2 separate regions of the Homo sapiens genome follow, and region 1 is linked to region 2. The links come from fine-mapping of genetic effects on gene expression. A gene starts in region 2. The other region holds a variant in brackets. All regions are shown on one strand. Distances are between the middles of the regions.

What was found. PIP is the estimated chance that this variant, and not a neighbour inherited with it, causes the effect. A credible set is the group of variants that fine-mapping cannot tell apart.
Region 1: its variant is the best candidate, but not a certain one, in a credible set for the expression of KIRREL3 in nasal epithelium (TOPMed, PIP 0.67).

Annotation. Positions count from the first base shown.
Region 1 is chr11:126,467,208-126,471,591 of GRCh38, forward strand. All of the region lies in intron 5 of KIRREL3 (kirre like nephrin family adhesion molecule 3), which reads right to left. Among named protein-coding and RNA genes, the nearest start is that of KIRREL3-AS1, 74 kb to the right of the region's middle. RefSeq lists an enhancer at 1-184. The variant T/C (reference allele first, on the strand shown) is at 2,557.
Region 2 is chr11:126,998,502-127,002,885 of GRCh38, forward strand. KIRREL3 (kirre like nephrin family adhesion molecule 3) reads right to left here and starts at 2,269. Exons shown (of 17, transcript NM_032531.4): 1 at 1,954-2,269. The coding sequence starts at 2,008.

The DNA of each region.
Region 1 (4,384 bases), 530 kb before region 2:
CGCTGCCTGCTCAGGTGCCGCCTCAGGGCTGTGCACCCACCCCCACTGCCCCTCCCTAAGGGCAGGGATTTGGCACTCACTTCTCTAGTTCCCCAGCACCGGCCTGGGAGGCCGGTCTTCCCAGGTATGGTTGTACACAGTGTACCCCACCCCATGGTTTTCCTGCTTGGGTGGCAGTGGCTGGCCACTCTGCTCTTTCCAAAGCCCCCAGGGCCTCCTCTGGGCAGTGGAGAGCCAGGCTGAGCTCTCGGAAATGGGTGGGCTGGAGGGCAGACAAGGGGTGGGGGCCCAAGCACTGGTGCTAAATATGGGGTGCCCGATGACAGGCAAACCGTCTGGAAAGGCCGAGAGTAGCCTGATTGCCTGGCAGCAAGGCCGCCTCGCTTCTCCCCGCTACTCACCTTCCCCACCTGCTGGGTCCCTTTTTTTTTTTTTTTAAAAAATCATGGCTCTGCTTCCCCTTTTGATAGCTGCTTGGGGCTCCCCATGGGCTGGTTGCCACCTGGCTTGAATAAGGGTGTGTGGGCCAGGTGGAGGATGCGCAGTGCTTTTTGCCCCAGTCCCTGCATCCAGCCTTGAGGCCAGAGGCCAGAGGGGTGCCCTTCACAGAGAAGGCCAGGATGAGCCTCGGCCACACCCAGTGGAGACTCTAGGCCCCTAAGCTGGGCAGATAGGTGCAGGGTGATGGGTGAGTGACCAGGGAGGGGGTGCCCAGTGGAGGGTGAGGGCCCTATGCATGTGGGCACTTATCCCTTTCCTGAGTGGGGTCTCCAGAGCTCCTCTTAGCAAAGGTGGTAAAAGGCGAGGCCAGTGGTCCTGGTGGTAGGGGTAGAGGGCAAGGGGCTCCAAGCAGACACAGACACGACTGTGCGTGCTAAGACCTTGCAACCCTCCTGCCTGGCAGGAAGCTGCACTTAGGAAGGGTTCTTTCTGGGCTCAGCCTGTCCTCTCGCCCCTCCTCTTCCGTAACCCATCCTTCCTCCCCTGCTGTGTGGACTTGGGGGCTTTCCAGAAGAAAGAATGTGGTCTCCACTCTGGCGCCAGGCCCTCAGAAGTATGAGGAACAGGGAAGGAACCCACTGTCCCCAGACAGCCCAGGGTTGAGTCTCCAGGAAGAAGCTTGGAGGGGCCTTTTCCTGCTCTGTGCCTCTGCAGCCGACACCCGCTGGGAGCCTGCAGTGGGCACTGCCCAAGGCCCCATCCGGCAGTGTGGCTCGCCCTGCACCCTGGAGGCTGTGACAGTGGCCTGTTAAGGAGAAGCATGGCCAGCCTGTGCTGGGGGAGGGACTGGGTGCTTCCTCTCCTGCCCTTCCTCCTGGGGAAGGGGCCTGGTGCCCTCCAGGGCTGAGGCTCATCCCTCCCCTACTGGTCCCATGGTGGAGTCACAGAGAGAATGGTCGGTGAGCAACCCAGAAACTTTGAGAACAGGCCTGGTGTTTTATGAAATAGCTGTATGACCCCTGGGGCAGGGAACTGGGGTTCCCCCTGTGGGACAGGAGCCAATAATAGTAGCTCACATTTATCCAGTCCTTACTCCTGCCCTTGACAGGGTGCTTCTGATGCATAATTTCTTGTAAGTCACTCTGCAACCCTAACAGACATCCGTGATCATTATCACTGCATTTTGCAGCTGGGGAAACTGAGGCAGAGGGTGACATCACCATGTTATGTTACGGATCCCAGGTTTGAGCTAGGCCTTCAGAACCATGTGGCCAGCCTAACTATGACACCGATGTCTGCATATGGGAAACGCGAGGTCCATAGTGGGGTGGACCTTGCAGCCGTGTGGATCCAGTGAGGGGGTGACAATCCCAACAGCAGTGCTTGTTGCAAGCTCGCTATGTGCCAGGCGTGTTTCTCATTCAACTCCTCACAAGCACCCCTTAAAGTGGGTGCTGCTGTCGTTCCCATTGTATGGCAAGGACAGGGAGGCACGGCAAGGTGAGGTCACGCAGCTGGAAGGTGGCAGAGCCCGGATCCAAATTCAGGCTGCCAGCTCCTGAGCCCACGGGGATAATCATCCACCATGTGACAGCCACTGAGGGCGTCAGACCCGACAGCAGCCAGGGCTGCCCTGAGGGGTCTTTTCTGGGGTCCTTGGAGGCTGCCTGATTTTGTGTGTGCTCCCAGCTTCTCTTCCTCTCTGCGGCTGATGCTCTGGCCCCTCCTCATATGTAGCCTCTCTGGGGAAGTCAGGAGTGCTGTTGGCCTATGGCAGGGCTCCTTGCAGCCCTGGGGGAGGAGGGGGTGGGCTGGGTCCCTGGGAGGGGAAGCAGAGGGGTTGGCTCGGACAGCCCCCAGAGCCTGCTCCATAGGAGCCCTGGATTGTGTAACCTACTGGGTATACTCCACATCACAGGCTTGTAGCTTCTCCCTGCCCGGCACACAGCCCCGTGCCTGGGGAAGCTCCACTGACGTGTGCGGGCTCTGCTGGTCACCCCTTTGGTCTCCATGAGAACCACTGGCCGTGGGGTGGACAGTTAGGATGGTGGATGACCATGGTTTGGAGGAGAGGCCCAGAGAAATGAAGTGCCTTGCCTTGGGACACAGGGCCTC[T/C]TCCCATGCTCATGTCCAGGGACACATTGAGGGTCTCAGGCCTCTGCTGCTCCCTGGACAAGCCACAGAGGGGCAGGAGACCATCTGAGGTGACTGTCCCCTGAGGAATCTGTTTCTCTTCCGGAGCGTCTGATCCAACACCTTCATTTTGCAGACGAGGAAACAGATGCCCAGGGAGTGAGTTGCCTGAGGTTATGCAGTGGAAGCTGGAACCCAGGCCTGCGACTGCCTGGCGCTGCCGTTCCCGTCACAGGCCCAGGAGCATGGATCGGGTCCCCCGCCCTGCTGTGCAGTAGTATGGTACCAGGCTCTCCGAGGGGCCTTCACAATGTAGACAAGGATGACATGTTGAGCTCAAGGTGATCCTGGGACAGGTCCAGCAGAGTGACCCTGACCTCTCTCTCCACCTGATGGCATGTGTCCTCTGCAGGACATTGACTCTGCTAGGGTCCAGGCTGGCCCAAGTTCAGGGAGGGACAGGACAGGTGCTCAGACTGGAAGGAAAGCCCCTATCCTTCCTTTTCATTCTCCTCTGGACAACTCTCTCTCTGTGTTATATCCTTGTATTACATAACAGGACAGGGTGGCTTCAGCCCAGGACATAAGGGAGAGGCTTGTCTTCCAAGAGGCAGCCATCCCTCCCTCCCCCTGGACTTGTGTCTGAGGGAAGGAGTTTGCCCTGGGTTCTGGCACCAGGTGCTGGGTTCTTTGATCGGCAGCCCTGGAGTGACCTCTTGGCAGGTGGTCAGTTTGGGACAGGAAAGACACACCCTCAGAGTGGGGACGGGCCTGCCTCACATCCTCGGATGACCAAGGCCCTGCTTATCTTTCCAGGATTGCTTAGAGGACTGGTGGGTAGGGGGAACCAGGCCGTGTATTTCCCCAGTCTCTGAGGACAAGGAAAACCCTCAGACCTGAGGCGAGCGGGCGTTCTGGAGGCTGGGCCCCCAGCTGCGGAGCTTGGGGGACCGGCTTGCCCTAGGAGGAGCATGGGCAAGGGCAGAGGCCAGGGTGTCAGGAATTGTGGTTCCAGGCCTGGCACTGCCCACTCCACCACTGAGAAGGACAGTCACTTCCCCACCAGGCCTCAATTTTCTAGCTGCAGACAAAAGAGGTTGGCCCAGGTATACTGTAAGGCCTCATTCATCTTAGAGGCTCTGTGGTACATTAACCCCATCTGGGACTCTATGCACAGTTTTGTTGAGTGGAGTTTGGTGGGGGCTGTTTAAAAATGTACCCAGAATTTTGTTTTTATTCAGGTAGAGGGAGGCCAACAGATCAGGAGACAACTGCCGTTGAAAAGACAGTTTGCGGCCGGGCGCAGTGGCTCAGTCCTGTAATCCCAGCACTTTGGGAGGCTGAGGCAGGTGGATCACCTGAGGTCGGGAGTTTGAGACCAGCCTGACCAACATGGAGTAACCCCGTCTCTTTTAAAAATACAAAAAAAGAAAAAAAAATTAGCTGGGCATGATGGCACACGCCTGCAATCCCAGCTATTCTGGAGGCTGAGGCAGGAGAATCACTTGAGCCCAGGAGGTGGAGGTTGCGGTGAGCTGAGATCACGCCATTGCACTCCAGTCTGGGCAACAAGAGTGAAACTCTGTCTCAAAATAAATAAATAAATAAATAAAATAAATAAAAAATAAAAAAAGAAAGAAAAAAAGAAAAGACAGTTTGCTACTCATAGTTCCCAGAGGAAGGGGAGGCCCCAGGGTCAGTTGGGGCTGGGGTGGGAGGTGTGGGGAGAGTGTGGGCACAGCCTCTGTTGTGGCTTGCTTTCATAGGAAGGAATGGTGAGGTAGGGTTGGTGGCTCAGCAGGTTTAGGAT
Region 2 (4,384 bases):
GGAGCACAAGGCATTAAGAACTGCATGATGTTATGGTTTCTTCCTAGCGCTCTCAGGACTCGGGGTAGATAAAACAGAGCATTTAACCTCCATAGGTAAATATTTAAAGATTCACATGAAGCAGTCAAGAAACAGCTCCAGACCAAGAAAGAAATAAGCACAACAGAAGATGTACACTGTAATGATTCAGACGGCCAGGGAGGTACTTAGACACCTATAGCCTTCTTATGCCAATCTACATAAGTATCACGGATCAAGCTTCTAACTACACAAAAGGCTGATTAAAGCATGCACTGGTCCCATGCAAATGTGAGTTTGTGTGTTTACGGGGGGTTGGTTGGAAGATTCCCTCCTTCTCAGGGGTTCTATATCAAAACTTCCTGAGTGAACTGGTAAGAAGCAAAGACGAATGGGAGTGTGTGTGTGTGTGTGTGTGTGTGTGTGTGTGTGTGTGTGCTCATAAGCAAGCACATACACATCCAAGAAAGAGGGTAATCTTACCAAATGGTAATATAACTGAACCTGTCTCTATACCAGTGTTCTGAGAGAGTTCTTATTCATTCAGCCTGAAACTCTGGGGAAGGCAATTTATCTTCCTGCTGCTGTAGGGAGCCTTGGTGAGAAGCACACAACCATATGAATACATGAGTGTGTGTGTGTGTGTGTGTGTACATACATTATCATTATACACAGGCATTAGTATGCACATACAAATATGAAGAAGGAGCCCCTTCGGTTTCATCAGGAGGACCAGAAGCAAAGTTTGAACTGCACAGATAAGGAGAAAGTCTGCAGTGACCACAAGCACGGGTGGAAGAGCAGAAGAAGGAAGCCAGGTTTTTGCTTATATTTGGCTTCTCCCCGACAGGGGAGAAACAGAAGACATGCTGTTTGCTTGCAAAGCCAGCCACCCATGGCAGTGCTTTGCTTTCTCGAAAACTTTTACCCTTCATTTAATCAACAGATGGACGTGCTCTGTTGTGGATTTTTTCTGAGTCTTGCACCTCTAAGAGCTGTGTTGGCTGGCACAAATGCAGCCTCAGATGGCAGAGGTGCATTGGCATTCCAAAAGAGCGGGAAGGAGCCCATGTACTTGCCCCTCCAAACTCAATTCCACAGGTGACTTTTGATGCCTTTGGCCAACTAGGCACTCACATTCCCTCTCCCGAATTTCCCTCTCCTTTCTGCACCACTACCAGCCCCAGGGCTCCCAGTGGCAAGGAGCCTAGAGGTGGCAAAGTTCTTTCCGGAGAGTCCACCTGCTTCTCTGCCCCTGCTAGGCTGCAGAAAGGAAACCATCAGCACCACGGGCGAAATTTCATTTTATACCCTGAATTCAGTGCTGTGTAGGATTCAGAATTCAACCTAATTTAGGGAACTCGATGACGTTCAATGAAACTCTTTACAAGCTTTTCCCAACCACTGCAAATTACCCCCCACAATACATTCTGTAATTGCAACCCCCTTTTCAACGGTGCAAACCACACACATTCGCTTTTGAATACACTTGTGCAAGTCAAACCCTATTCAAGCTGAAATATCCACCTAAACCAAGCTCTCCCTCCCTGCCGTCTCCTTCCCTGGCCTGGGTCTGAAGGAGAGGAGGTGCCCAGAAGTTCAGAGCGGCATAACCACAGAGATACTACCTAATTAACATACCAGAAGCATAAAGAACTCATTTGCATTGGAGAGTTTGAGCTGGATATTGACAAGTGAGAGGAGAAAGTCATTCCCCTCCCCTCCCATACCCCTTCTTTCCAAAGGAAAATAAACAGTACCATTTTGTTGCATTCGCAAAGGCGAAGAGGCAATGCCAGAGCATCTCAGCCCGGCACCGAGAGACGCATCCATCAGTCCGAGTTCCCGAAGCCTGCCCACGTTCCTGCCCACAGCCTCCCGCGCCCTGACAACCCAGCCGACTTTCTTCCAACTCCAGCAGCGCAGGGGTCCTACCTTGACTGAAGAGGAAGAAGCAGACGAAGAGCAGATCGAGCTGGAAGGGTTTCATTCCTTAGCGCAGCGAAGGAAAGCCGGCGGGGTAACTTGGCTGTGGTTAGTTTCTCTTCCTTGGCGGCTCTCGGTGCTCAGCCTCCGCCGGTCCTCTCGGGTTCGCGCCTACCATCTGTCCGTCCGTGGGTCCCTCCGGGTGGCTTCGGTCTCTTTGTGCCTCTGGGTATCTGCAGCCAGCCGACACAAACTGCCTGTTCTTAGCCGCCTCGGGAAGCCGGGATTGTCAGCAATGTCCCCACTCGGAGAAGATCCATTCTCTGGCTCTTGGCATCCCAGGCACACGGCTTCCTCAGGCGGGCTCCTCCCACAGTGAGCGAGCGAGCTAGTGACGAGTGACAGAAGGACTCCTTTCACTGAAGCTGAGGCGAGGGGAGAGGGAGGGGAGACAGGTCATAATTAAAGAGGAAACACTCGGAAAAAGGAGATCTATGCAAAACGGACAGTGGGGGAAAAGGCTGTGTTCTTTCTTTTCCCTAAATAGGGAAAAATTCAGCTTTTGTCACCATTATTGACCAAAAGGCATCTTGAGCTTGGAGTGGAGCTGTGACTTTTTGTCCACACGATGTCCTGTTTAACAGTGAAGTTAAGGATGACTATCCACATGCATGTGCACAAAAACATGCACGCCCTGCCTTTGCAAAGGAACTGGAAACTGGGCTGAAAGGGAACTAGGAAGGGGGGGTGCGCATCTTTCCCTCGGAAGGACTTGGCCAATGTGTGCAGCGGGAGGCTCGGAGTTGGAGAAGAGATAAGCATGCTTTGCATTTCTGAGAGTTTCCTGTGGGTGGGTGGGTGGTTGTGGTGGGGGGGGGGGGTAGGTAATAAAACCTGAACATTTGGATCTTAGTTTGCTTTGCACTGCTCCTGGAAGACAAAATGCAGGAACTAAAGGGAAGGCAAGTAGGCTTGTGACACACACCCATTTATTATCATTATCCTGGTTTGTGCATTTCCTAACGAGGACAGGGGAGCAGCCTGTCTTTGCATTCAGAGCCTCTCCTCTAATGAGCGCTCCATCACTCTGAGCCTGTCTTTTCTCCAAGAGGTGCTGTGAGTCCAATTGCAAAGGAGAGGCCAAGGTCATAGACAACTGCGTCCTAAGGATCTTCAAGCCTTTTACCTGTCATGAAATTCACACTCCACACTCAAATCAAACTCGGTTTCCTCCAGGATATCAACATGAATTTATCTGGGTCTATTTACTTAATAGACATTTAGGCATGCTTGGTATAAGCAGGCCATGGAGGGAAGCAAAATAATAGGCACAGACCATGCCTTCAGAAGCTCATAATCTAGTGTGCAAGCAGAGTACACACACAAGATGCAAACTCTAAGGACATAACAAAACAACACAGAAAAATATTCAACGTTATGCACTGTGAGAAGGAGAGGTAAAGAGAGAGGAGAGGAAAATGAAAGACGCTCCCCTGACATGTGCCATTTAGCATTCAATTCTAAAATCAGTCATTACTGTCTTCAGTCCCTGGACCTTGGGGAGGTCTTTTGGGAAACTCTTAGCCTTTCCTCTTTCAGTAGTAGCACATCTTTTGAGGACTCTGCTCACTACAAGGCACATTCCAACTCCAAGTTTCCATGCGGATGTTAACTTTAAAAAATTATCCCTTGGTATTTGTGAACAAGAAAGAAAGAAGCAGGGGCATATAGAAGTGTGCTAGTAGGAGCTGACATCTGGTAGTTGACACCAAAGATCTACAAATTAGTAGGTGTCTGCTTTGTTGACTTTTCTATTCTTAACTTAATAGTTTATTTAACTGCATCCCTTAGAGGCTGTTAAACACAGCAAAGGGAAATTTGTAAGCAAACTTTGGGAGGAGAAACAGAAATGTTGAGCAACAGAAACTAAAAGGACACAAAAGAGGCAGCCCATTAGCTAAATTAACAAACAAGTTACTGAAGCAGTGTCAGCTGAGCCTGAGTCCATTAGCCTGGTGTAACAGATCATGCAATAAATGGAAGAGGCAAATCAAAAACACACAGAGGAGATGAAAAATAATTTTAAATAACATATGCCAAATAACACAGTAAGACTGAAAATAACTCTATGTATAGCGCCGTCACCTTAGTAGTAGCTTTGCATTAAGCCTATGGGGTTGTTGGGGAGAAATTTCAGGTGTCTGCGTGCCATTCTTGCAGGGAATAGGACAAATACTAGAATGCAGATTCTCTATCAAAGGTAGCAACATTTGACGTTTTAACTAAAGATTTATCCTTTAAGCTGTTGTTTAATTTTGAGTGCTAATTCCTCAATGGCCCAGGGCCCAGATTTGCTTAATTCAGCCCCCGAGGGAACTATTACAAAACCAGGGTCACAAGGCTAGTGAAGTGTGCAATACGCAATAATCAGGCACACGTA